Linked DNA regions of Homo sapiens. The protein of the gene in region 1 purifies or fractionates together with the protein of each later gene. This does not show direct contact. Each region holds a gene or a part of one and is shown in the gene's direction. Other genes may lie near its edges. The genes, in order: MUC20, FASTKD3, TRMT44 and FAM118B.

Region 1 (6,919 bases):
GGCACCTGCCCTCCCCTCTGCTATTTAGTACTGCAGCTGGCACCTGCCCTCCACACAGCAGTATTTAGTACTGCAGCTGGCACCTGCCCTCCCCACACCAGTATTTAGTACTGCAGCTGGCACCTGCCCTCCCCACACCAGTATTTAGTACTGCAGCTGGCACCTGCCCTCCCCACGTCAGTGTTCAGGATTCTTTCTCTCTGTTTTTCTTTTTTTTCCATAGTTTTCACCTTTCTATAATTCACTTATTTGTTATGTTTATTGTTTTGTGAAAGGAAAATAAATCTTGGGCCCCCAAAATCACTAAGCTAAAGGGGAAAGTCAAGCCGGGAATGGCTTAGGGCCGACCTGCCCCCCATTCTATTCAAAATCACCCCCTGCTCACTGAGATAGATGCATATCTGATTGCCTTCTTTGGAAAGGCCCATCAGAAACTCAAAAGAATGCGACCTTTGTCTCTCACCCACCTGTGACCTGGAAGCTTTCTCCTGGCTGCGAGTTGTCCCACATTTGCTTGGCGTTGCCCGGCCTTTTCCAGACTGAACCAATGTTCATCTTACATGTGTTGATTGATGTCTCATGTCTCCCTAAAACGTATGACCACCTTGGCACATGTCGTCAGGACATCCTGAGGCTGTGTCACGGGTGTGCATCTTCAACCTTGGAACAATAAACTTTCTAAATTAACTGAGACCTGTCTCAGATTTGGGGGGTTCACATTTTGGTAACCATGGAGGGATTCTGAGTTGAGGTACCCCTGACCTTTGACAGATCTATTGGTGCTTGGTAGCACCATGAGCTAACCTTATGGCTCAAACCAACAGGACAATTTGCTGAGGTCTGGGAGCACCCCCTCCATAGAGTCCCTGATCTCTCAAAACTTGGTCGTGATCTAAAGTTTATTTGATGTACAACTCCCCCTCTCCTTCTTTTGGAGTTTTATTTGCTTCCAAGAAGGAAGGCAAGATTTCCTGGGTCCGTGATGATGGAAGGCTGACAACTCTTTTATGGAGTTTGAGCTTGCTCCCAGCAGGGAAGACAAGTTCGAGTTTTTTTCCTGCTTCAAGGATGGTAGAGAGCAGTCTTCAGCCTGAGACCCATCCCTAGGTAAGTAGCTGAACTGAGGTTTTGTCTTGGCTGAAGGTTAACAACCAGCTGGTCTGAATTTCTTCTTCCCATTAGAGCAGTCTGTGGTCATATCATTTGACTTTTGTTGTTGTTGTTTTTTCTGGTCTTTCTCTCATCAGATTTGACCAACTCTACCTGACTTGGTCAAATCCAAGTGAGAATTCCAAATTATGGGTAACAAAGCCTCTCTAATTTGGCTAAAATTCCTTGCAGCTGCAAAAGAGGAAAAAACTAAACGAAAACAACAAATCACGTGCTTGGTTTCTGTGTTTGCTTTCTGTCTTAAAAAACAAACAAACAAAAACAACAAATGCTCTTTCACTTACTTTTCTTCCTCCCTATACCTCCTCCTGCCTTTGCCATCTGCGGGACCAAAAAAATCTAGAGAAGGCTTCCAATGACTCGAGCCCCTTTAAAGGATCCGGAACAAAGGGGCCACTCACCCCTTCCAGGGTGCTCTGTTTTCTTTGTGGAGTTTCAAGAGTGATGGGCGGATTCTTCTTAGGTCTAAAGCTCTGCTGTCTTCCTGTACGGCATGACCTGACCTCTTTGGCTTTGGGGGAACCAGAGATGACCCTGCACTGTGAGAGGATTTGACCTTGGCGTGTGTAATGGCAGACGAGAACTACAAAGAAGGGGTGGCTGAGCACAGTTTACAGGGAATGGTCTTGGCTGTTTTTTTGTTTTTTTTTTTTTCTCTTCTAGGAAGCTGTGATTTAAGGATCCTAATTCTAGTTCAGAGATGCATCCTAAAGGGTCTTCTCTATTGCTTTTTCTCCCAAAATGAATCTCAGTTTGGGTTGTCTATGTATTTGCATGAGGAACTGAACTGTTGTTGTCATAGGTAAATGAGAGATTGAGTTTTCTCAGCTCCAAAGAGAAAGGGCGTTTGCTCCTCCCAGCCGAGTACTCCATAGGGTTCATGGCGCCTCTACTTGCCAGAGTTTATGTAAAGTGGAAGTAATATGGTCTTTCTGCACATTTACATTAAAAAAAAAGGAGCCCTGAGGTTGACCTGCAAACTGTAGAGTTCCTGAGTCCTCTTTTTTCTCTAGTTTCTTCTCTGCCTGCTTTAAATTTGCTGTTATTTTTCTATTAAGATAAAAAACACTGTTTGGATCAGATAGTTTTTCTGTTTGTAAACTGGTGAATTTGTATTTATTTCATGGCTAAATTTCTTTTTTTCTTTTCTTTCTCTTTTTTTTTTTTCTTTTTTTTTTTTTGAGGCAGAGTTTCACTCTTGTTGCCCAGGCTGGAGTGCAATGGCGTGATCTTGGGTCACCACAGTCTCCTCTTCCCTGGTTCAAGTGATTCTCTTGCCTCAGCCTCCCGAGTAGCTGGGATTACAGGCATGCACCACCATGCCTGGCTAATTTTTTGTATTTTTAGTAGAGATGGGGTTTCTCCATGTTCGTCAGGCTGGTCTCCAACTCCTGACCTCAGGTGATCTGCCCGCCTCGGCCTCCCAAGGTGCTGGGATTACAGGCGTGAGTCACCGCGCCCAGCTTTCATGGCTAAATTTCTGAAGTAAAAGCTATAGGATCTTTGTGTGTGTGTATATATTTAAAAGGCCTTTATAATTTCTATAATTTTATGTTTAATTGGCAATTAAATCTGTTTTAATTTCCCTCCAGCACACCAGACTTTTTCTCTCCATACGTTATGATGTAAATTTTGCTATTCGATTTTCACCTCAGTTTCCTTAAAATGCAAATTCAAGGCTATTTAGCTGACAACCGCTTAGAGTAGTAAAACAGGTTATCAAGAATTCGAAGGTGTGGCTGGGCACGGTGGCTCACGTCTGTAATCCTAGCATTTGGGAGGCTGAGCCGCAAAGATCTCTTGAGGTCAGGAGTTCAAAACCATCTTGGCCAACATGTTGAAACCCCGTCTCTACTAAAAATACAAAAAAAATTAGCCAGATGTGGTGGCAGGTGCCTATAATCCCAGCTACTCAGGAAGCTGAGGCAGGAGAATCACTTGAAGCCAGGAGGCAGAGTTTGCAGTGAGTCGAGATCAAGCCATTGCACTCCAGCCTGGGCAACAGAGTGAGACTCTGTCTCAAAAAAAAAAAAAAAAAAAGTAAAAAAGAATTTGAAGGTGTAAGAAAAAAGCTCTTTATGAATCTATAAGATGAACTTCTTTCAGCATACCTAATACATCTGTGTATTTATGTGTTGTTGTGTACACAGTGTTTTGCTACTGAAAATATATAAAAGAGCTCTAATTAATTGGCTTAAGAAAATAAAAGCACTTGGCTGGGTGCAGTGGCTCATGCCTGTACTCCCAGCACTTTGGGAGGCTGAGGTAGGTAGATCACCTGAGGTCAGGAGTTTGAGACTAGCCTGGCCAACATGGTGAAACCCCATCTCTACTAAAAATACAAAAATTAGCCCGACGTGGTGGTGCGCGCCTATAATCCCAGCTACTCCAGAGGCTGAGGCAGGAGAATTGTTGGATCCCGGGAGGAAGAGGTTTCATTGAGCTGAGATCTCATTACTGTACACTCCAGCCTGGGTGACAGAGCAAGACTCCATCTCAAAAAAAAAAAAAGAAGCTAGTGATTCCATATCTTCAAATCAAATTTCAGTGGAGTGTTTACCGGGCAAGGAAGGCAGGGGGGTCAGCTTGCTGACAGCCTCAACCTGCCAGCCCTCAGCCTGCACATTTGTGATCACCTGGTCACACACCTGGGCAGGAGGCTGCCCCTCCTCCCTGGTTTGAGGAAGCAGGAAAAGGTACCCGCGAGAGACAGCCAGCAGTTCTGTGGAGCAGCGGTGGCCGGCTAGGATGGGCTGTCTCTGGGGTCTGGCTCTGCCCCTTTTCTTCTTCTGCTGGGAGGTTGGGGTCTCTGGGAGCTCTGCAGGTAAGGAGGCCTAGAAGGGCCTGGTGGGCCTCTCCCCTAGTAGGGCTCTGGGAGTGAATTTCAGTATGAGCCACCCTTCATGGGCAAGGGCAGGCTCTCTCGGGTTGATTATAATGAACCACAGTGCTACTTGTGAAGTGCTATTATTGTTGATAAAGAGTGTGCAAATGACAGTGTGAGTGTAAGCGTGCATGGCGCTGCAGTACACACTAATCAACCATGACGATGTGTGTGAGTGTAAGCGTGCCTGGCGCTGCAGTACACGCTAATCAACCATGACGCTGCCATCGTAAGGGATGGCTGAGAGTTTGTCTTTATGAACGTGGGACAGTAAGTGGGGCACGGAGCGGGGGTGCAGGGAGGTGCCAGCTGGTGATCATTGTGCAGAAAGCTGAAGAATGTGGCTTAACAAGATTCTGACTCCTCCCAGTTTATTACCTAGCATGGATTTCCTTCAAAATACAGATTTCGTGTGAAAAGTCCAACTGCCACAAACTGCTTGGGAAGGGTGGATGCTGACAGGCAGGGCTTTTGTGAAAGACGGGAATGAACCCTGACCTGTCGCTAATAGGAGTTGTGCCAAACTCATCACATACATTAAAAAATAGAAAAGGATTTATTTTTTTTTTAGTTCTATGCTCCCTCTAAACCTCGAGTGGAGAGGCCGGGCGTGGTGGCTCACACCTGTAATCCCAGCATTTTGGGAGGCTGAGGTGGGTGGATCACCTGAGGTCAGGAGTTCGAGACCAGCCTGACCAACATGGAGAAACCCCGTCTCTACTAAAAATACAAAATTAGCCGGGGGTGGTAGCAGGTGCCTGTAATCCCAGCTACTCGGGAGGCTGAGGCAGGAGAATTGCTTGAACCTGGGAGGTGGAGTTTGCAGTGAGCTGAGATCGCACCCTTGCGCTCTGGCCTGGGCAACAAAAGTGAAACTATGTTTCAAAAAAAAAAAAGCTGCAGTGGAGAGTCTGGAGTTCCCATCCCCACCACTCACAGCCTCCCCCATCATCAGCGTCCCCCACCAGAGTGGCACATTTGATAGGACTGAGGAACCTACTTTGATGCATCATTATCATACATTGTATTTTTAATCCTCACAACGGCCCTGCAAGATCGGCCCTGTTTTTACCACCCCCCACCTCCACTGCTTTAAGGGTGAGGCCACTGTGCTTCTGGGCATCCAGTAACAACTCCTCGGAGCCAGAATCTGACTCCTCACAGGCCTGAGCACTGCACCCCGTGGCCTCCTGCCTGTGCTCACCGTGGCCTGGTCTGCGCTGCACGTGTCCCGTTAGCTCCACCTTACAGGTGCGGAAATGCAGGCTTGGAGCTGAGAGACTTGGCCAGGGTCACAGGGCAGAGAGCAGATTCTCCAACTCAGGGTCCCAAGTCCACACGCTTTCCTCTCCACCAGATTTGAAGATTGTACCAGGAGAGCCGCAGTGTTCCAGAGCTACTGAGGGGCTGGGCTGGGATTTGCTGTATTCGAGAAGACCCCCTTGGACCCGAGAGGCTGTGGGCTTGGGGAGCATGAGGAGGTTTCACAGCAGAAAGGACACCCCGGGGCTCCTGGATAAGCCAGAAAATGTGCCAGGGGAAGTCGGGCTCCAAGGGCACCACTCTGGGCTTCCAGCTGTGTGGGCTGGACCAAGAAGGCTCAAAGAAATGATCTCAGGCTTGAAGTGGGGAGAAGAAACTGTATTATGAAGGCAGACGAACAGTTCCTGCAAAAGTGAGATTTGTGTGTGCAGCTGGGCCGCACTGGACCAGGGATGAGAGTGGGTGCCCGGGACTCGCCTATACTGCCTGGGGGTGCAGCCCGCACTCCTCACTATAGTCAGATCAACTATGCGTGCTTTCCAGTGGCCTGGGAGAGGACTCCATAGGGAGGGATGCTTACCTTGTGGGCTTTGGAATATAAGCCCTTTCACCTTCTCCGCTGGTCCTCATCACGTTGGCAAGGCAGGTATTGTGACCCTGTTTTCTCAGGTGAGGACATGGAGGCTGGGAGGGGTCTAGAGACTGGCCTGGCTAGTAGGAGGCTGAGTCAGGATTTGAACCAGCAGATCATCTGACCCCGGAGCCAGTCGTGGGCGGCACAGCGGGAGCTGCAACCGAGGCTCTTGACTCCTGCGTCGTCATTCCCTGAGGTCCACAGGACAACCAGTTGGGGACCTGGGGCCCCATCCTGATGCCCTGGGGAGAGGTGCTAGGCCCCTTTTGGGTCTATGGGCTACTTTTGGGCCAGTGGAGCTGGGTAAAGACCATCTCAAACCCTGTGCCAGGGGAGGTCAGACTCCAAGAGCGCCACCTTTGGGCTTCCAGCTGTGTAGGCTGGACCAAGAAGGCTCAGAGAATTAGGGGGTTCGTATTTGATCCTTTTCCTTCCAAGACTGGGATTACCAGATAAAACACAGGGCATCCAGTTACATTTGAATTTCAGGTAACAATTTTTTTTAAGTGTAAGTATGTAGCCAATATTGCATGAGAAATACTCATGCTAAAAAGTTATTCGTCGTTTATCTGAAATGCAAGTTCAAATTTAACCGAGTACCCTGTATTTTTATTTGCTAAATCTAGAAACCCTCTCCAAGAGGCTCCTTGGCCCACTCACAGGGAGAGCCCGATCTCCCTCTAGACAGGGGAGGCCCCCTTTCTCAGGCCAGAAAAGATCTTGTAGTAAACTACTCAAGAGGCTGAGGCAGGAGGATCGCTTGAGCCCAGGAATTCAAGACCTGCCTGGGCAACAGAGCAAGACCCTGTCTCTAGGGAAGATATCCTACCGTAGCCTCCCTCGGGGACTCCCATTCCTCCCACCTCAGGGCCAGTCAAGGGAACAGGCCTCTGCTCTGGGCAGAAGTGCTGGCAGCCGCTCTCTGAAAAGCTAGGTGTTGCCTCAGGGTCTCCCGGTGTCCTGTGGAA
Region 2 (7,509 bases), on another chromosome or scaffold:
CATTACCCAGTAACCCATACCGCAGGTGAGCAAAGAAATCAACCGGCAGTGTTTGGTTCTGTATTTCCTTAACAAACTTGCGGGCTGTGTCGGGTGGGTCTCCGGTGCCCGTGGTAGAAACCACAACAACAAGAGGAGCTGTTTCGGTTTTTAGGTCATACTACAAAACAAGGATATCAAGTCAGGGACCTAACACTACATGCATTTTTGATTTAACTCAGCAGCAAAGCAATCAGCTTAGTTTCCTGTCTTGTATTTCAATCTTCTTCCTTGCCAGTTTTTTTGAGACGACCAGTCCAGTGACTAGGCGCTCTCAGCTTAATCAATTTGCCTAATGCAGGATGTCATTCAAGGAAACCATGCGTCTGTTTTGTTGATGCTCATCAAGAGGTTGGGGGGGATTAACACGTCTTTCTCTTCATGTTGTGTACGAAAGGCAGGGACAGGCACAGACAGTACCCATCCCAGGTTTCCATCTAGTCCCAGTCTTTCATTTTTAGAAAAATCAGAGGAAATAGGATATAGTCAACTCTTTGCCACTGAGTCATGGGCCAAACATTAACATGAGCTCAAATCTGCAAGGCAAATCAGCACTGCTAAGAGCCAAGATGAGGCACCTAGGCACTGTGATGAGCTGCCAAGGAGGAACAGCAGCTAACTGGGTGGAAACGTCTTTTCATAAGAAAGTAAAAAAAAGCAAGGAAAGAGGTGTTAAAATGGGGATGGGGAGACTCAGAAATAAAGAGAACTGATACATAAGCACTCAGGATTAGAATGCCAAGACAAGGAAGCAACAAGTAGAATACTGTGGTAAAGAAAAACAGCAATAAAAACACAACAGCTCTGAAATCTTCAGCAAAATATAAAACCAGCCATGTGTACTGCATGTGACACTAAGGCAGAGGGATAACAGGGCATTTTAAAACTGGGAAATTAAAAGTGTTACCCCTTCTAAATCAGGGACCTGGCTATCAAGAACCGCTCATTCCCTCAGGTTTCCAGAGAGCTGAGAATATCATTAGCTATAAGCGAGCTACAAACTCTTACAAATCAAGTTTATTCTTATTCTCATGTAAGTTTAAATATTTCATATAGAGCATTTCACTGTCTTAACTCTGAGAATATCATTAGCTATAAGCTGAGCTATAAACTCTTACAAATCAAGTTTCTTTATTCTTACTCTCGTGTAAATTTAAGTATTTCAAATAGAACACTTCCTTGTCTTACTTGTAAGACTCCACAAGCTTTACTGCCCATGAACACCATCGAATTTGGCTCCAAATAATTCACCTTATTTTTCACACTGATAAAAGAGGTAACAACTTAACTTTTTACCGAAGTATTTAATGCTTCCAAGACTCTATGTAAGTTGTGTGTTAAACTCTACATACAGAGTTTGTATAAGTAATGTCAGTACCTTGAAAAGGACTATGTGAAATAGGAAGGATATTAGATTATGAACAGCTAGACGAAACCATCAGCCAGGGAGGATAAATAGCATGACTATCTTGGTGTTAAAAAAAAAAATTCACCATTCATCTGACTGCCAAAACACCTGCTGATCAACTTACTGAGGTCAACCACAAGGGGCCAAATCAGGACTAGTTTTATGATACTGATGGCTTTGGTTTTGTCCAAAGTAACAGATTCAGATACTTCATCATGTGGCACTGCAATCTGAACTTAAGTTACTGTAGAATGACAGAGTCTGCTGACTGGCAGTCTCCTCCAGGAAGCTCCCTTTTCTCTGGTGTCCAGAGTTACCGTGGCAGGGCTGCATAAAGGAACTAGGTGAGTCTCCTTCCGTGAGCTGGGTTTATAATTCACTTGAGCTGCACACAGTCTAGTGTTCTGAACTGGAGTTTTAGGAAAGGCCAGAGAGGGTTGTGCACTTGGGTGAGAGAGCACTGGCAGGACAGTCTCTGAAATGTTGAAGTGAATTTTAACTGCTTAGCGGCTGGCAAATCATCTTGTGGTATAAAGCCCCTGCCAACTGTTATCGCCTGAATTGTCTGAAATAGTATAATCTGGAGGCAGCAAACTAAATAAAAGAACACAAGATGGTAAAGTTGCATATACCCTAAGGTAGGAACTTCTGCAGAGACTGAACATAAACAACTAGTCCCTGAAGAAGCAGCCGAGTTTTTTCCAGATCCTTACACTACTACTTTAAATTCTATTTCACAAAAGAATCTAGGCGGTCCTTCATCAGGAGGAACTCTAACACGCACGGCAAGGCCTTTCTTTTGGGGAAAAAAGTGGGACACTGAGATTCAAGAGGTGGAAAGCACACCTGAGCAGGCAAACACACATCTCACTTGTTCTCACAGCCACCCTGTGAAACAGACACAGCATATGCTACTTCTGTCATTTACAGTTAAGGAGTTGTTACTTGTTTCAATTTTTGAGACCATTTAGTCTAATTCAACTACACACTTCTATATTAAAAAAATGCTGGTGATATCTTACTATACCATTGAACAAACACATTTCTGTTAAAAAACAAAGACTATGTGGTGGTATTAGTGTCCTTTTGTTTCATAAATATCACTTCCCAACCAAAATTCTTCAAAGCACAAAACGGTAAAATCCACTGTAACGGCTCTAACCTTATCGGATTCACTAATACAGTGAAGATCTGCAGAAAATCCATGTACCACAGCTTGCTCACATATTTCTTCTGCGATGGCCTTTGCCTGTCCCTGCTGTGTAGCATATAGTAACAGAAACCTCCTCATCACTTCAAGGCATGTAACAGTGAAACTGAAAAATGGGGGAAAAAAGATCCTCTTTTTAATGAAGCAGTAACAACCTAAAGATATTAATTCTCCCTCAATCTTTAAGAAACAATGCAACAATACCCACACATAATATGAAATGGCCTTTTCTAAATTTGTTTTCAGCACTAATCTCAAATGAGCCTAAATAAGAATTCATCAAATTAAGGAGAGTGTACGAATGAAACTCTAATTCCATGGCTCAGAAATCAGATGATCGGCTCGAAACTACTTGGGCTTGAATCTGTGTTTCCTAAGTGCAACCCTGTAGACAAGCTCCCCAAATGATCCGTACCACAGCTCCTTTATCCTAAAAATGAGAGTATTACCACCTACCTGAAAAACGATGTGGCACAAGCCAAGAACCTGAACAAAACTTGAGCCACAGTATCATTCACAACAGTCTTAAATAGCTTTTGGTTTCCTCTTTTTAAAAAAAGATAAAAGTAAAAACTATATTAAAATGATAGGATTCTTGGTTCTTATTTGATCCTAACGCTAAACAAACTAATCATAGTACTAAAGGTAACTGAAGCACATACTCTCCTTCATTATTTAATGCAAATCAAAAATATGTGAGTGTATGGGCATATATACAAACGGGTGCATATAACGAAAAAATATTTCCAATCCACTTAAACATTTTACTAACACGTTTTTCCGCAAGAGATAAGCAGTAGTAAAACAAACGACACTCACAGATTTTTTTCCATACTCATCTAACGGCTAAAATTGGTGGGCTGTCAATTTGCAGAGACAGATTTAAACTGAAACCCAAACCAAAAGCTTGGCTTTCGGTGAATGAACCGCCCAGAACGGCACCTGGCATGAAACTGGTACTCGATAAGTTATCTGAATGAGTGAATAAACAATATGAAAACACTACACATTGACAGCTCACAGAAAACGGTGGAAACGATAATGAAAACCTTACTACAGCTAAAATTTCTATCACTTCCCATGAAACACACATCCTGAGGGCTTCCCAGGATCAATCAACCCCTCATCCCTGCTACTGCCCCACAATCCGGCACCACCTTCCCACGACTCTCAGCGGAGGCCCGGGCCCCAGCAGCCCCGGAAGCGGCGCGGAGGCGGTGGGCAGAGCTCACGGCCGCGGGCAGAACTCACGGCCGCGTCCCGCCGGGTGGGCGCTCGGAACGTCCCGGGTTCCCCGGAGCGCGCCGCCCCAACCCGGCATGTTCCCCAGTTCCCCGCGTCCCCGAGTGCGGTTTCCCTAGGCCTGGAAAGCGCCTAGAACCAAAGGCAGAACATGAGGAGAGACCCCACGCCGCCCAGGGGCCTCCCGCGGCAGAGGCCGACGCCGAGCCCAAGGACACGCTCCCGGGGACACCAAAGCCAAAGGCCAAAGGCCAAGTCCGAGCCCCAGCCCGCGCCCGCGGCGACCCCCGGAGGCCGAAGGGCGTGGGAACCACGGGCGCAAGCCGGCTGCCCACCCCCGCCCCGGGCCGCCTCTCCCAGGAGATTAGTGCAGGGCGAGCGGCCGGAATCCGGGAACCGTAGCCGACAGGCAGCTTACCCACGCCGCGCCAGCCGGGCACGAACCTGCACAACGCGACTTCCACCAACCTTGCGCCAGCGCGCACTGACGCAGCGCCCATGCTCGGTACCCAGGACCAATAGAAAGCTCCGAAGGGGACCTGGGCCAATCACATTGCGCCGCCCTGAGTCGTGCTCCCGCCCCGCGTTTGCTACGGAGGCCCACGACGCCCAGGCGCTTCCGCGACCACCCGGAGTGATTGCCCGGCAGAGCGCGGTAGGTGTCAACGCGGGGTCTCCGCGCAGTTGGTCCGGCTGGGTGTCAAAGACCTGGCCGGCTTTCTCCTCAGGCTGCGCCGCCCGGCCCGTGTCTCAGCGCAGGTCCCCGGGGCGCCGAGTTTGGGGGTGCTCGCCCCGCGGGTCCCTTTCATTCCTAGGAAAACGCGCCGCGGGGCCTCCCGTCTGTCTGTCTTGCACACACGTGTTGCCAAATCCCCCCGCACCGTCTTTAGATCTGGACTGGCCGCCCCACCTTCTCCCTTCATTGATCTATGTTTTGCTTTTTCTTTTCCTACCTTGTTTCCATTGACAAAGTAGACCCTTTCCTTCAACACTAACCTTCTCCCGACACCGAGGGGAAACCAACAGCTTAGGGCCTTTCCAGCGCGTTTTTACCCTTGCCTTGCTCTAACCTCGCCTAATTTTGCCCACTTTACCTGTTCTTTGATTTCTATCCAAATGCAATTTCTTCCTTCAACCAACATTTAAGGGCCACCCTTAAGAGCTACATTGCCTGAGTTTGAACCCTAGCTCTGCCACTTAACCACCTGCATAAACTGGGCAAAGTAACTTTGTGCTTCAACTTCTTCCTCGTGTAAAATGATAGTAAAAGTACTGAATCTGTGTAAGTTAATAGAATACCTACAACAGTGTTTAGCAAGTAATAGCGATTGTTATTGTTCAATGTCAGCCACTCTTCTAACTCTAGGATGCAGAGACTTTGCCCCTCTGGTGTTTATATGTTAACCATCCTTTTTTTTTTTTTTTTTTTTTTTCCAGATACTCGTTTGTAGTTTCATAAACATTGATGTTGGGTCAATCATGTTCTCAATGTATTTAACCATGTGTTTTTAAATTTTTTAATTTAGTTATCAAATTGAGAATCTGATGGTATGGCATTAATCACCTTGAGGAAGAACCTTTATCGTTTATCTGATTTTCAGATGCATAGAGCTCTGGCTGCTTTAAAAAATAAACCTCTAAATCATGTTCACAAGGTAGTCAAGGAGCGTCTGTGCCCTTGGTTGTGTTCACGACAACCTGAGCCTTTCGGGGTCAAATTCCATCATGCCCATTGTAAAAAGTTTCATTCGAAAAATGGAAATGACCTTCATCCACTCGGTGGACCAGTGTTCTCTCAAGTATCTGACTGCGACAGGCTTGAACAAAATGTTAAAAATGAGGAGAGTCAGATGTTTTACAGGAGACTGAGCAACTTGACTTCATCAGAAGAAGTGCTAAGTTTTATAAGCACGATGGAAACCCTGCCTGACACTATGGCAGCAGGAGCTTTACAACGAATTTGTGAAGTGGAAAAAAAGGATGGTGATCAAGGGCTGCCAAAAGAAATACTGGAGAATAGCATCTTTCAAGCTTTATGCTTTCAGTTTGAAAAGGAGCCCTCACAGCTGTCAAACACTAGTTTAGTGACTGCTTTGCAAGCTCTGATTCTGTTGCATGTGGATCCTCAAAGTAGCCTGTTGCTGAACCTGGTGGCAGAATGCCAAAATCGTCTCAGAAAAGGTGGCATGGAAGTTCGCAATCTTTGTATTCTTGGGGAAAGTCTGATTACACTGCACAGTTCAGGTTGTGTGACACTAGAACTCATTATAAATCAACTTCAAGGTGAAAAATTGGAAACATTTACCCCGGAGGATATTGTGGCCCTTTATAGAATCTTGCAGGCATGTACTGAAAAAGTGGATGAACACCAAACATTTTTAAATAAGATAAACAACTTTTCCCTATCAATAGTTTCCAACCTGAGTCCTAAATTGATTAGCCAAATGCTCACTGCCCTGGTGGTTCTTGATCAAAGTCAAGCATTTCCTCTGATTATAAAATTGGGCAAATATGTCGTGAGGCATGTCCCACATTTCACTAACGAGGAGCTTAGGAGAGTCTTGGAGGCGTTCATATATTTTGGGCACCATGACACATTTTTTACAAAAGCCCTAGAGCATCGTGTAGCTGCGGTGTGCCTCACGTTGGATCCTGAAGTTGTCTGCAGGGTCATGGAGTACTGCAGTAGAGAACTGATTCTTTCAAAACCCATCCTCAATGCAGTGGCAGAAACTTTTGTTTGCCAAACAGAAAAATTTTCACCTCGTCAGATTTCTGCCTTAATGGAACCATTTGGGAAACTCAATTATTTGCCACCAAATGCCTCTGCTTTATTTAGAAAGCTGGAAAACGTGCTATTCACTCATTTCAATTATTTTCCACCCAAATCATTATTGAAACTTCTTCATTCATGTTCACTTAATGAATGCCATCCAGTCAACTTTCTGGCAAAAATATTCAAGCCTCTTTTCCTTCAACGGCTGCAAGGTGAGTTGGTTATAAATTCTGACAGTTGGAAAAAAGTAACCTTTGAACTGGCAGTGGTTTCAAGTCACATATAAAGGCAATATGTTGCCTTTAGTTTTTCTTCCATAGTGATCCGAAGATGAGACCTGAAGTTAACAGATGCTGGCATAAACACAGTTAAAGCATGCTAGGAAATCATGTAGAGGGAAGAAAGCTGTCTCAGATAAACTGACTTTTGCCTTATCTGAGAAATTGCAGCATTCTTAGGAGATATGGTAATGGCAGTGGAAATAGCCACATTAACATGTTAGAACTTTTGATGAGTGAGCAACTGTATCTTTTTTTTTTTTTTTGAGAGGATGGTATTATTCATCTTAATTCAAGGCCACCCAAATATGTCAAATTTCCGGAACTCCATAGTTAAAGGAAATTTCCACTAATTCTGTGAACATATTTTATCTCTTTTAATTGTATTCTGTAGCTAGGAGCTTGGGTTCTTGGAAGTCAATTTCATTGGTGGCAAGAGGAGGGCATAATTAATTCTAACAAGTTCATTTCATAGTGTCATTTAAAAATAGAATACTTCTGTCTGGAGTGTGTAAATTGATGTTGAATGTTCATGATGTTCTCTCATACATACCTC
Region 3 (6,921 bases), on another chromosome or scaffold:
GTGGCGGGTAGCTGTAGTCCCAGCTACTCGGGAGGCTGAGGCAGGAGAATTGTGTGAACCTGGGAGGTGGAGTTTGCAGTGAGCCGAGATCACACCACTGCACTCCAGCCTTGGCAACAGAGCGAGACTCCATCTCAAAAAAAAAAAAAAAATCAGCATATATATATATTCGAAAAAATATATATAAATATATATATACAAATATATGTAAATATATAGAAATATATACACGTAAATATATATATTTACATATATATGTAAAAAAATATATGTAAATATATATATAAATATATATATAGTGAATACTTCGTTTGTAAAGCAAGCCCAGGGTAACATCAAGCAGAAGCTACAGGCATGAATATCACCCAGTCTATAAAAGTGGCCACCAAGGCGTATGTTAGCTGTGACCAAGGAACAAAACAGGAAAGAGCAAAAGCAACAAGTGCGGCAGCTAGGCACGCCAAGGGTTAAATTCCTCTCCCCGGCTCAGCTCTATCTAGAAAAAAAGAGGAGGCTAGAGACCGGTGCCAAGAGAAGAGCAAAACAAAAAGAAAGACTCACAGTAAGTGTAAAAAAGAGAATCAGAAGAAAATGGGAGAGACAGCAGTGCGCGGGGGCAGGGCCTGTGCCACTGCCTGGCCCCGCCAGGTGGCCATAGAAGCAGGAGAACTCAGGAAGGAAAAAGAAAAACAAAGACTTAAGGAAAAAGGCCAATCTGTTAGCAACAGCTCTTATAAAAAGAGAGATTAGCAATGCGAGAGGACGTGGACACGGATGTAGACGTGGAAGAAGTCAAGTTAGGCAAGGATTCGAGAGCCGGCCAAGGCTAGAGAGACATTAATGTGTGAGATGAAAAAAGAAAGGACACTAGAAGGGTGAATGTTCAGAAGGCAATAAAAGAAATGGCCAAGGCTGCAAGACAAAGAGGCCATTGGCCAAGGGCTGCCGCACCTTGGAGGAACCAAATACTGATCTGATCAGGCTGGCAGGAGCTAAAGAATGTAAAGACTAGGGCAGACTAGGCACCTTCTTATTAGGCTCCCAGGAGCCCATTGTCACATTAGAAGTTAAAAGCAGCAGGATTCTGCCATATCTGGATTCCAATTTCTCACTGATGGCTAAGCCACTAGATAGAGTTACAAAGGGGGGAAAGAAAAAGAACCCCTCCTCTAAGAAACTTAAACAGGAAAAAGAGCCATACCTTGTGAAAACTTGCTTATAGACTTTACAGAACTGCCTCATGCTGGAGGCTATCGGTACATGCTAGTGCTTGTTTGCACCTTTCCAGGGTAAGTTAAAGTTTTCCCCACCAGGACAGAAAAAGTACAAGAAGTGACTAAAGTATTGTTAAAAGACATTATCCCCAGGTTTAGACTGCCTCTAACTTTAAAGTCAGACAATAGGCCAGCATTTGTAGCTGAAATAGGGCAGGATTTAACAAGACTGTTAAAAATAAAATGGAAGTTACACACAGCCTATTGGCTGCAAAGTTCAAGAAAAAGTGGAGTGCATGAACTGGACACTCGAGCAGCTACTGAAAAAAATATTGCCAGGAAATTCATTTAAGATAAAATCAGGCTTTTGCCTATGGTCCTCCTTCAAGTCAGCTGCACCCTCACCAAACAAACTAGGTATTTACCCTATAAGATTTTGTTCGGTCGGCCACCCCCAAATCACAGGTCAAATTAAAGGTGACCTCCAAGAACTAAAGGAATTAACCTTAAGAAAGCAAATGCAGATTTTAGAAATAGCCATACAAAGTGTTTATAATTAAATACATAAAAATGCCTATAAGCCTGACACCCCTTTAAATCTAGTGACTCTGTTTAAGTTAAAAAGTAAAATCTAATTTTTCTAGGACCCATATAGGATGGGCCTTATACTGTAATCTTTTCCACTCCCACTGCTGTTAAAAGTTGCAGGTGTTGTGTCTTAGATCCATCACAGTCAGCTAACACTGGCAGCTCAGGACAAGTAGACCAGCCAGCAGGACACAGATCTTCCTACCCGGCTGATTCGGAGACGAGACCAAGCTGTTGCTGAGGACGACAGCCCTGCTCTGGTCACTCCGGAGGCTGACCAGTCTACACACGGCTGAAGCTTGAAGAAACAACAAGCCCGGCTCTAGTCACGCACTGGCAGCTGAATAGTCTACGCATGGCCGAAGCTTGAGGACTTGTCAAGCAAGTAAACGTAGTTAAAAATCTTAAGACTAATAGTTTTCCTGTAATACTGTTTTCCTATTGTTCTGTCACTGTATTCAATCTTTTTCCCAGGTAAGGACCTCTTTTGTCCTTGCTGGATACAAATATGCTGTATATTGTTTTGTTATTGTTACCCCCCATAACCATGCTAGAAGAAACACCTATATAAGGTGTCCCCATTGTACACATACTACTTAGTCAGGAAACCCAGACCCGTCCAGCCCAGCAACAATTCCGAGTCTTTAAGTCATTCTTTAAACACATAAACCAGAAGTTACAAGAGCCTCCTCCTTTAGCAAAACAAACAAACAACCTATTTGCTCAGCTGGCTGAAAACATTGCCAGCAGCCTAGACGTTTCTTCATGTTATGTTTATAAAAAGGCTAACATGAGAGACCAATGGCCTTGAGAAGCAAAAGATTTAATGCCTCAAGATTACTTTAACTCTTTCCCCAAGCAGATGCCAAGTTCAAGCATTTGGCTCTTAAAAACTCCTATTATTAAGAAATACTGTGTTGCTTGCTAGGAAAAAAGCTTTTAAGACCCAGTAAAAAAACTAACCTGCTTAGGACATGACAAAGTTGGCACATGTGCCTGTACTGGTTTAACACAGGTTTGATCCTAGGTCTTTATTTAAAAGATAGTTTCCAGCTATAAGAGAATTTAAAACCCTCACTGCAAGTGTATTACATAAAACACTATCACTCTGTCTCCCAAAGAGACTCAAAGTAAAAATAAAAGCGAGAACTCCCACTAATTTGTGAAAATTCTCAAAGGAAGGGATAAGGAGACCACTACTACTCCTGCTGCCCTCCTCCCTGCCACCTTGCCTAGTTCATAAGACAGGAGGAAAAGAGAGAAAGCAAAAAGTTAGAAAGAAACAAAAGTCAGATAAATAGCCAGACAACCTTGGCACCACCACGTGGCCCTAGGAGTTAAAAAAAATAATAATAATAACATCAACCCCCGACCTAAACTACTTGTGTTATCTGTAAATTCCAGACATTGTATGAAAAAAGCATTGCAAAACTTTCTGTTCTGTTAGCTGATTCATGTAGCCCCCAGTCACGTTTCCCATGCTTGCTCAATTTATCACGACCCTTTCACGTGGACCCTTAAAGTCGTAAGCCTTTAAACAGGCCAAGAATTTCTTTTTTGGGGAGCTCAGCTCTTAAGACGCAAGTCTGCCGATGCTCCCGGCCGAATAAACCTCTTTCTTCTTTAATCCGGTGTCTGAGGAGTTTTGTCTGTGGCTTGTCCTGCTACAGTAGGTGACAGATGACTTTCATCCCTCATGGGACAACGTTACATCATTCTTATGAAACAGCCATGGCTGCACTCAGACTTAGGAAGGCACTGGCTGTAATGCCAGCACTAAAAGCAAACCAGAACCCAAGTGGAGAAAAGTTAGCTTTCATAAGAGGACTCATCTTTTACGTTCACAAACTTAGGCTCCCTGACTTTTATCGGTAATCAGTACTGAGGACAATGCGTTCCACACCCGCTGGCTGGCTGATGTTTGATTCTGTAACTATACCACGCCCAGAATTCTCTCAAAAGGGAATAAAACACAGGTCAAATTCCTCACCCACACACTCCACAGTTCAACCCCTGCCAGGGAAACCAAAAGCAGGAAAGGATCTCCAGCGGCGCCATTCTCATTTCCGGTCCCAGCACCCCGCCTCCATGACGTCAACGCGCCGCGCCACCGGGCTGCGTCATCTCGGCGCGCCGCTGCCAGGGCTGTACACCTGCTGGCTGCCATGGCTGAGGTGGGCCGTACCGGGATCAGCTACCCAGGCGCGCTTCTCCCACAGGGCTTCTGGGCTGCGGTCGAAGTGTGGCTGGAGAGGCCGCAGGTGGCAAACAAACGGCTTTGCGGCGCCCGCCTGGAGGCCCGCTGGAGCGCCGCCCTGCCCTGCGCGGAGGCCCGCGGCCCCGGGACTAGCGCAGGCTCGGAGCAGAAGGAGCGGGGTCCGGGACCCGGCCAGGGTTCCCCCGGAGGGGGCCCGGGTCCCAGGTCGCTATCAGGACCCGAGCAGGGCACGGCATGTTGCGAACTTGAGGAGGCCCAGGGCCAGTGCCAGCAAGAGGAGGCACAGAGGGAAGCCGCCTCAGTGCCCCTGAGGGACTCCGGGCACCCCGGCCATGCTGAAGGAAGGGAGGGCGACTTCCCCGCCGCAGATCTGGATTCGCTTTGGGAGGATTTCTCCCAAAGTCTCGCCCGTGGCAATTCGGAGTTGCTGGCCTTCCTCACCAGCTCCGGGGCGGGATCGCAGCCAGAGGCGCAGCGTGAGCTCGACGTGGTTCTCAGAACCGTCATCCCGAAAACTAGCCCACATTGCCCCCTTACAACTCCCAGGAGGGAAATAGTCGTGCAAGGTAAGAGTGTTTTGATAGTGGACGGATATGATTAGATAAAAAAGCATTCATAGAACCTCGGGTCAATGAAAAAGTCCTAAGGGTACTAGTTCCTCTGCGATGTCCTAGGGAGGTTGTTAGGTGTTTCATAGTTTTTTGAGTGGGCGCATAGAAATGTGTGTCCTTAGTACAGAAGATGGGATAATTGATTGGGGTGGTGTCTGGAAGGCTTCAAAGAGACAGTGAAGGACTAGCTGGATATTGCGTAATACCTAGGAGTTTAGCAGGTAAAGCTGTAGGTGTAAAAGTGTTGGGGACCAGCCTCAACACCACCCGTAGGGTACTCAAAGTCCGGTGGCGACGAAGGAATGAGACGAGACAGGTTAAGAGTGCATAAAGATTGGGGGCCAGGGGGCCAATTGCAAAATGGAGGCTGCCAAAGCCTGGGAGCTCTGGTCTCCACACTATTGAGTACAATCACTTAGATCTAAGAAGCGGACGTTCGGGGCGAAAGGGTGAAAGGGAGACAGTGCATCATACATGTCATCTATAGCAGTGGCGGTTTAAATGAATCTCCTTTGTGCTCAAACAGCGTTATCTTTAACTTGTCGGAGAATAACCAGTGGGAGCGTGCTTAACTAGGAGCCTGCATGTCTGACCACATTGTAGTGATTCAAAGGAGTGTCTTTCTCCTTGAACACAGTGTTTATAGGTAAGACAGTAGGTCTCGCCCAGAGCATGGGAACATCATGACAATAAGAAGGCTTTCCTCCTCAGAGGCCTCTTGTGGCTTTCCACAACTTATTGTCTCATATTTTTATGGCCAGTTTATACAGGCATGCCATAAGCCTTTTCCCCAACATAAAGAGAGCTATTTATGCTGAGACAAATAACTGTGAAAGAGCATAGAGACTGGATGGATGGGAACCTACTAGTCCTCAGCGTTCGTTAAATCTCTGGCATTTATTTTTACTGCCCGTGACCTTGACACTTCAGCCTCAGCCACTCTTACCTGAAACTTTATTCAGCAGCATGTGTTTCGTATTGCCACTGTAACAAATTACTGCAAATTCATTGGTCAGTACAAAAAATTGATTGTCTCAGTTCTGTAGGTTAGGAATCCCCATTGGCTCTGCTGGTTTCTCCGCTGTGGGTCTCTCTCACGAGGCCAAAATCAAACAGCCTGCCGGCTGGGCTCTTATTTGGAGGTTCTGGGAAGGAATCTGTTCTCAGGCTCATTCAGTTCGTTGGTAGAATCCAATTTTTTATGTAGGACTGGGGTCCTTGTTCCCTTGCTGGCTGTCAGTTGCTGGAGGCTTCTTTCTGGTTCTTTCATGCAGCTTCCTACATCTCAGAGCCAGCAATGGGGTTGAATTCTTCTCATACTTGGAATCTCTCTGCCTTCCTCTCCTGCTGCTTCTCTCCTCCGCCTCCAGCCAGAGAAAATTCTCTGCTCTTCGTGGCCCATGGAGTTAGGCCGGGCTCACCTGGATAATCCAGAGTACTCTTCCTCTTGAGGTCTGTAACCATAATCATGTTTGCAAGTGCCCCTTTTGCCATATAATACAGTATATTCACGAGTCCTGGGTATTACGGCATGGACACTTTTGGGAGGCTCTTCTGCCTACCTCAGGCAGCAATTGCTGGGAGGTACATAGTCCCCTCTGATGGCTCCCAATACTGTCTGCCTCTGTGCCTTTGTAAGACTCTAGGTGTCCTCTCCTCCAGGGGGCCTCTCTGCCAGTCCAGTCTAGTTTAGGAGTTCTTCCAGCTCTTATCAACTGTGTTCTAATCTTAACCATTTTACGTTGTCCATCCACTGGACTGAGGATTGGAGAGGCAGTGCCCGTGAGGCCTTCATGTGTAGACTTCGCTGAACAGAGGGGTAGGACAGAATTTTTTCCTTTCTTCCTCTCAGGGAGGCAGTTTTCCCTCTCAACAAGGAGTACGTTTTCAGGATTGCTTTCTATATTCAGTTCCCGCCAGGAAGGCTCACCAGAGGACTTGTATCCTCCATGGAATATAGACAGCCTGGCTTTGAATTTTGGTCTTGCCAATTACAAGCTGTATGGCTGTGGGCAGGTTATAGAGCCTCTCTGTGCCTCAGTGTCTTCATTTGTAAAATAGGATAATAATAAAATATCTTGGAGTTGCTGGAAGAGTTAAATGGAATTAATACATTGTAAAGTGCTTAGAATAGTTCCTGGCACATGGTAAGTGCCTAATAAATGCTAGCTGCTGTTTGTGTGAAGTGGAGATGCTCTTGCAACTTTTGTATATTTCTTGGCCCTATTCTGGGTAAGATCACGAAGGTCTTAAGAGTAATGTGACTGTTCGAGACCAGCCTGGCCAACAT
Region 4 (7,033 bases), on another chromosome or scaffold:
CCACAATTAGGGCTGTGTCTCAGTGGCGTTTCCCTACATAAGGCAAGATGAACGGAAAGTGTTGCCTTCTTACCTGGCACCTCATGAGAGGGTAGTTGTCGCTCTGCTTTGTACCCCAGCTTCCCTTTAATACCGACAGTAAATTCATATCCCTTGGCCAGGTTTATTTTCTTCATTCTATAAAAATGCCTATTTTAGGAAGCTTACGTATAGTAGCACTTGCTATCTGCTAAGCATTGTGCTAAGCACTTGGCATGTATCATCTCATCTTCCTTATTACGTTCGTATGAGATAGATAATATTTTATCCCCGGGATTTTTTTTTTTTTTTTTGAGATGGAGTCTCGCTCCGTCGCCCAGGCTGGAGTGCAGTGACGCGATCTCGGCTCACTGCAAGCTCCGCCTCCTGGGTTCACACCATTCTCCTGCCTCAGCCTCCCAAGTAGCTGGGACTACAGGCGCCTGTCACCACGCCCTGCTAATTTTTTTTATTTTTAGTAGAGACGGGGTTTCACCGTGTTAGCCAGGATGGTCTCGATCTCCTGACCTCGTGATCCGCCCGCCTCGGTCTCCCAAAGTGCTGGGATTACAGGCGTGAGCCACTGCGCCTGGCCTTTATCTCTGTTTTGAATTCAAAATATTCTTCCAAAATTTGTTACTGCTGTAACTAAAACAACTGACCTACCAAAGCACTTTGGACTAATTTTCTTTTTTCAAATCCCTCCTCAGCGTACCAGTAATGTTCGATCCACATTTTTCAAGGACTGTTTATATGAAGTATTTGATGACTTGGAGTCAAAGATGGAAGATTCTGGAAAACAGCTACTTCAGTCAGTTCTCCACCTGATGGAAAATGGAGCCCTCGTATTAACTACAAATTTTGATAATCTCTTGGAACTGTATGCAGCAGATCAGGGGAAACAGCTTGAATCCCTTGACCTTACTGATGAGAAAAAGGTAAAAAGTAAAGCATTGGTCCCTTCTTCAGGCTAGTGGATTTTATCTTCCTCAGAAAAGCTCTTTTCTAGTTGGTATATTGGTATTTATGTAGAGCTAGAAAGGAAAAATTTTTTCCCTGGTTGGAGTTTTTGTTTTTCTTTTTTCTTTCTTTTTAAAGATCAAATCAATATACAGTAAAATGCATAGAACTTAAAAGTGTTCAGTTCTATGACTCTTGACAATTTCATCCAGTTTTAAAGCAAGATTAGAGGAAGTCACTTGAACTGTAAGATCTCTTTAGCACTTGACAGTATTCAGTGGTGTAATATTGATAATGCTGGTTCTATTTTAGGATACCTTTTTTTATGGCATCTATTGGAAATGTATGAAAACTACTTTATACTGATTGGAAGAACAACTTCCAGGCCAAGCGATGGCTGAATTGAGGTTAATGTTTAGTGGAAACCTCAGCAGACTTTGTTTTAGCATAGTCTATACTGTACCTACCATAATTATTGAATTATAGATGTTGATCTGTGTCAGCTAATGAGATGAGTTCTTAAAGTCTCATTGGTCCTACTCTGTGATTTTTGTAATGTTTTTTCCTACACTTTGTTTTCCTCAGGAATCTGCCTTTATGTCCAATTTAGAGCCCAACTAAGTAGAGTTGAATAGACAAGTGATTTGCCTGCTGGCATTCAGTACTACAGTATTGCCCCTGCCAGAGTGGTAGCTGAAATACCACTCTTGTGGTTTTGCTGACCTTGATGGCAGGATTTAAAGGGAATTGAATTTAGAGAAAAGCTGCCCCATGAAGACTAGTTTTCTCTGGTCCAAGTGTCTTCCGCCTACGCCCTCATATTCTGTATGGTCAGCTCCTTCTTCATTTATAACTCTCAACCTAGGGATCCCCTCCTGAGAGACCTTCTCTGACCATCCTATTTAAATTGGATACTTATTTTTTTTATCCAGTCTCTTGTCCGTTTCCTTTGTAGCACTTAGTATTAACTTGCAGCTTTTTTTTTTTTTTTTTGAGAGACAGTTTCGCTCTTGTTGCCCTGGGTTCAAGTGATTCTCCTGCCTCACCCTCCTGAGTAGCTGGGATTACAGGCATGTGCCACAACGCCCGGCTAATTTTGTATTTTTGGTAGAGACGGGGTTTCTCCATGTTGGTCAGGCTAGTCTCAAACTCCTGACCTCAGGTGATCTGCTAACCTCAGCCTCCCAAAGTACTGGGATTACAGGCATGTGCCTGGCCGTTTTGTTTTGTTTTGTTTTGTTTTGTTTTGAGATGGAGTTTTGCTCTTGTCGCCCAGGCTGAAGTGCAATGGCATGATCTCAGCTCACTGCAACCTCCTCCTCCTGGGTTCAAGCGATTCTCCTGCCTCAGCGTCCCGAATAGCTGGGATTACAGGCACCCGCCATCACGTCTGGCTAATTTTTGTATTTTCAGTAGAGACAGGGTTTCACCATGTTGGCCAGGCTGGTCTCGAACTCCTGACCTCAGGTGATCTGCCCACCTTAGCCTCCCAAAGTGCTGGGATTACAGGCATGAGCCACCACACCCAGCACAGTTTTTATCTTGGCTGTTTATCTGTTTTCTGACTGTTTACCCCATAGGAATAGTAACTTCACTTGGATAGGTATCATGTTAGTCTTTCTTACCCTCATAACTCAAATACAACCCTCATGTCTCAAATATGACAGTTAGGTGCTTGGTAAATATTTTTTTGATTAATAAATGATTGGGCTGGGCACAGCAGCTCAGGCCTGTAACCCCAGCACTTTGGGAAGCTGAGGCGGGAGGATCACTTGAGCCTAGTTCAAGACCAACCTGGGCATCATAGCAAGACCCCATCTCTACAAAAAGTTTAAAAATTAGCCGGGCATGGTGGTGTTTGCCTGTGGTCCCAGCTACTTGGGAGGCTGAAGCAGGACGATCGATTGAGCTGAGGCAGTCGAGGCTACAGTGAGTTGTGATCACACTGTTGCACTCCAGCCTGGGTGACAGCATAAGATCATGTCTCTAAATAAATAGGCTGGGCACAGTGGTTCACGTCTGTAATCCCAGCATTTTGGGTGGCCGAGGTGGGTGGATCACTTGAGGTCAGGATTTTGAGACCAGCCTGTCCAACATGGTGAAACCCCGTCTTTACTAAGAATACAAAAACTAGCTGGGAGTGGTGGTGCACGCCTGTAATCCCAGTTACTTGGGAGGCTGAGGCAGGAGAATCATTTGAACCCAGGAGGCAGAGGTTTCAGTGAGCCAAGATTGCGCCACTGTGCTCCAATCTGGGCAACAGACCAAGACTCTGTCTAAAAACAAACAAACAAATGATTGAAATTTTAAAACTAGCAGCTTCTATGCTATTTGTGATAAAATTTCCAAAGATTATGACCAAGTGTGTTCATGGATATCAGAAGCATAAGGACCTTTTAAAAGCTGAGGATATCTATCACATTTGATGTTTTCCTTCTCATTTCATCCTTGGGCCTCAAGATTTGCATTGTATTTTCAGCCCACATTAGGGGCAGTGTTGCAGTCTAATGGTTAAAGACATTGACTGGTAGTCAGAATGGGGCCTAGTAACATTCAAATTCTAAATCTCGGTGCCTCTTGACTACTTTCCTGATTCATAGCCTATTTCTCCAAAATGTGATAAGAATAAATGTATGCTGTCTCCAGTCCTTGGGAAAATGGAGCCATGGAATCAGGTGGCTATTGCATTCGCTGTTGTCTAAATGATTGTTCTTCGCTGGCAGCCTTTTAGGTTCCTCAGAGGTGACTGAAGTGATTTTTCTATCACTTATCTATTGCTGTACAAGTAATGGCCGTGAAACTTTGTGGCTTGTAACAACAAATATCTTATCTGCCCATGATAAAGTATATTAACAATTTGAACTGGGCTCAGTGACTCAGCCAGGCATTTTTTCTGCTGATTTTTGCACCCTCTTCACATACCTGCAGACATCTGATGGCCGCACCAGGGCTGAGTGATATAAGGGGACCATACTTCCCTGCAAGCAATTGGCCAGGCCATATATGTCCCAGCAGGCTAGCCCAGGCTTCTTCACTTTCTTCGCATGGCAGCTGGATTCCAAAAGTAACACAAGAGAAGTAAGACTTCTTGTGCCAACACTTTTCAAGCTTCTGCTTGTGTGTGTTTGCTAGTATCCCATTGGCTAAAAGCAAGCCATGTGGTTAGCCTGGAGTCACTCCGAAGAGGGGCCACACAAGGGCCTGGATACAGAGGCTTGATTTCTTGGGGCGATCACTGAAGCAGTTGTCCATAGCTCTCATGCATGCCACCAGTGCAAAGGGTCCCTGTTGTTTCTGCAAATTATGACAAATTGTGATTTTTGATGCTTACTTTCAAAGAGAAATCACCAAATTTGTTGCCATCATTCTTGACAGTCATTCCTGAAGTGGAAACTTAGACCACATCAGGTTTTGCATTCTTGTCCTATATCATGAAGCTAGAGAGTTTATGTCAGAAGTCTAGTCCTCAAAACAGCCTCTTGCCCATTGTGACCTTTAAACAGGTGCTCAGCCCTGCCAAGCTGGTTGGGCTATATGTGTGTTGTGCAGGTCCTCGAGTGGGCTCAGGAGAAGCGTAAGCTGAGCGTGTTGCATATTCACGGAGTCTACACCAACCCTAGTGGCATTGTCCTTCATCCGGCTGGATATCAGAACGTGCTCAGGAACACTGAAGTCATGGTGAGTGGGGCTGATCTTGCTGGTCTCAGGAACTCCTTCCTGGGAAATCTCTCTAAATATGCCATAGATCTTAAAGGGGAACATCTTCTTTTCATTAAGTGAAAACGGAAGGTCAGGGGCTAGGAGCAGTGGCTCATGCCTATAATCCCAACACTTTGGGAGGCCAAGGGGAGAGGATCACCTGAGGCCAGGAGTTCGAGACCAGCCTGGGCAACATAGCGAGACTCTTGTCTTTACAAAAATAAAATTAGCTAGGCATCATGGTGCATGCTGTCCCAGCTACTTGGGAGGCTGAGGCAGGAAGATTAGTTGAGACTAGGAATATAAGGCTGTAGTGAGCTGTGTCTAGAGCCACTGCACTCCAGCTTGGGTGACAGAGCAAGGCCCTATCTCTAAAAAAAGAAAGAAACTGGAAAGTCAGACGTTCTTCCTGTGCTTCTTAACTTATGGGTGTGCATGCTGTCTAGGAAATGTAGAATTTCTCTTAAGGTGTCAAACCCTATGATCTTTGTTTGTACTTAATTGACAACCAGCAGATGGCATGTCATCATTGGCATCATCTTCACATACAAAGGATACATTAGTACCCTTTATCATCATTTGGTTTATTAATAGCCCTCTCTGTGTCAGAAATAATTGAGGCAGCTTCTTAACAAACCAACCACTACTAGAGAATACATTCTAAAGAGACTTTGTATAAATGGCAATGGGCTTATATTGAATTAACCACATTTATTCACACTTACTCTTTGTGAAAAGCTTATTGATCTTTTGGGATGCACATTTTCGACTTGTTCAGATAAACATGTTCAAACCAGAAGTATTCGCTGCCCCCAGCTCTAAGAATCTTGTTTGCTGTTTTCAGGACTGGGTCATATAGATTATAGCATCTTTTAATAATGAGGCAAAAGACCGAGAAAATGTATTGTCTAAAGCACAAGGGACTTTTTTTTCTTTTTACCCATTCTTTCCCAACATCTGCCATAACTGCATCCATCTCTGACATTGAGTGATCCCTTAGGCAGTCATTTCTGTGTTTTTGTGTGTGTATATGTATACACACACACACACATACTGATGTTCTAAGTATCAAACGCCTTTCCTTGAGCAAATCCGATGATGGAATTATCTTCTCTGGTGATTCACAGTTCAGTTTGTGAGACAAAGGCAAATATGGTCCAGAAATGGAAGGATTAAGATATATGAAGACCTACTCTTTGCACAATGACCTCTGGGCACATAAATCTAAAAAAGTACGCCTGTAATCCCAACACTTTGGGAGGCTGAGGCAGGCAGATCACATGAGGTCAGGAGTTCCAGACCAGCCTGGCCAACATGGTGAAACCCTGTCTCTACTAAAAATAGGAAAATTAGCTGGGCGTGCTGGCAGGTGCCTGTAATGCCAGCTACTTGGGAGTCTGAGGCAGGAGAATCGCTTGAACCTGGGAGGCAGAGGAGGTTGCAGTGAGCCAAGACCATGCCACTGCACTCCAGCCTAGGTGGCAGAGCAAGACTCTGTCTCAAAAATAAAATAAAAATAAAAAAGTAAACTACTGGCCAAGTGCAGTGGCTCACGCCTGTAATCCCAGCACTTTGGGAGGCCAAGGTGGGTGGATCACTCGAGGTCGGGAGTACCAGACCAGCCTGGCCAACATGGCAAAACCCCGTCTCTACTAAACATTCAAAAATTAGCTGGGTGTGGTGGTGCACACTTGTAATATACTCGGGAGGCTGAGGCATGAGAGTCACTTGAACCAGGGTGGTGGAGGTTGCAGTAAGCCGAGGTCACACCACTACACTCTAGCCCAGGTGAAAGAGTGAGACTCCGTCTCAAAAAATATATAAAGCATAAAAAATAAAGAAGTAAACTACTGCACCAGTACACTGACACCAGCTCTATGAAACGCTGATTAGAGAGCCTACAGAAGAATGGCAGGTAAAGATAAAATTTTAGACCAATCATCAAGTTACAGCAATAAGCAAGAGATCACACTCCTTGATGGGACATACCAACCCACTTAAGTCTTGCTTAATTGGTCATCACAGTCTGCTCAACGTAGCATGACCTTCTTGTTTCAGACTTGCCTTGAGTGTGTCTTCACAATGTCAATATGTTGTATCTTTTCCTTCCAGAGAGAAATTCAGAAACTCTACGAAAACAAGTCATTTCTTTTCCTGGGCTGTGGCTGGACTGTGGATGACACCACTTTCCAGGCCCTTTTCTTGGAGGCTGTCAAGCATAAATCTGACCTAGAACATTTCATGCTGGTTCGGAGAGGAGACGTAGATGAGTTCAAAAAGCTTCGAGAAAACATGCTGGACAAGGGGATTAAAGTCATCTCCTATGGAGATGACTATGCCGATCTTCCAGAATATT

What was found.
Region 2: the proteins of MUC20 (region 1) and FASTKD3 purify together in Homo sapiens (affinity purification with mass spectrometry; 2 studies listed by BioGRID and IntAct, with this or other methods). This does not show direct contact.
Region 3: the proteins of MUC20 (region 1) and TRMT44 purify together in Homo sapiens (affinity purification with mass spectrometry; 2 studies listed by BioGRID and IntAct, with this or other methods). This does not show direct contact.
Region 4: the proteins of MUC20 (region 1) and FAM118B purify together in Homo sapiens (affinity purification with mass spectrometry; 2 studies listed by BioGRID and IntAct, with this or other methods). This does not show direct contact.

What each region holds. Positions count from the first base shown.
Region 1 is NC_000003.12:195,717,090-195,724,008, forward strand, and holds the start of MUC20 (mucin-20 isoform a precursor), read left to right. Parts: upstream 1-3,888; 5' UTR 3,889-3,918; coding exon 3,919-3,994; intron 3,995-6,919. UniProt on the Homo sapiens protein: May regulate MET signaling cascade. Seems to decrease hepatocyte growth factor (HGF)-induced transient MAPK activation. Blocks GRB2 recruitment to MET thus suppressing the GRB2-RAS pathway. Inhibits HGF-induced proliferation of MMP1 and MMP9 expression.
Region 2 is NC_000005.10:7,866,024-7,873,532, reverse strand, and holds the start of FASTKD3 (FAST kinase domain-containing protein 3, mitochondrial), read left to right. Parts: upstream 1-4,501; 5' UTR 4,502-4,554; intron 4,555-5,333; exon of another isoform or gene 5,334-5,336; 5' UTR 5,337-5,449; coding exon 5,450-6,887; intron 6,888-7,509. Other genes in the region: MTRR (methionine synthase reductase), read right to left, coding at 7-160, 2,610-2,738. UniProt on the Homo sapiens protein: Required for normal mitochondrial respiration. Increases steady-state levels and half-lives of a subset of mature mitochondrial mRNAs MT-ND2, MT-ND3, MT-CYTB, MT-CO2, and MT-ATP8/6.
Region 3 is NC_000004.12:8,436,856-8,443,776, forward strand, and holds the start of TRMT44 (probable tRNA (uracil-O(2)-)-methyltransferase), read left to right. Parts: upstream 1-3,921; 5' UTR 3,922-3,967; coding exon 3,968-4,586; intron 4,587-5,905; exon of another isoform or gene 5,906-6,083; intron 6,084-6,921. UniProt on the Homo sapiens protein: Probable adenosyl-L-methionine (AdoMet)-dependent tRNA (uracil-O(2)-)-methyltransferase.
Region 4 is NC_000011.10:126,249,778-126,256,810, forward strand, and holds part of FAM118B (protein FAM118B), read left to right. Parts: intron 1-728; coding exon 729-956; intron 957-4,481; coding exon of another isoform or gene 4,482-4,527; coding exon 4,528-4,656; intron 4,657-5,373; exon of another isoform or gene 5,374-6,789; coding exon 6,790-7,033. UniProt on the Homo sapiens protein: May play a role in Cajal bodies formation.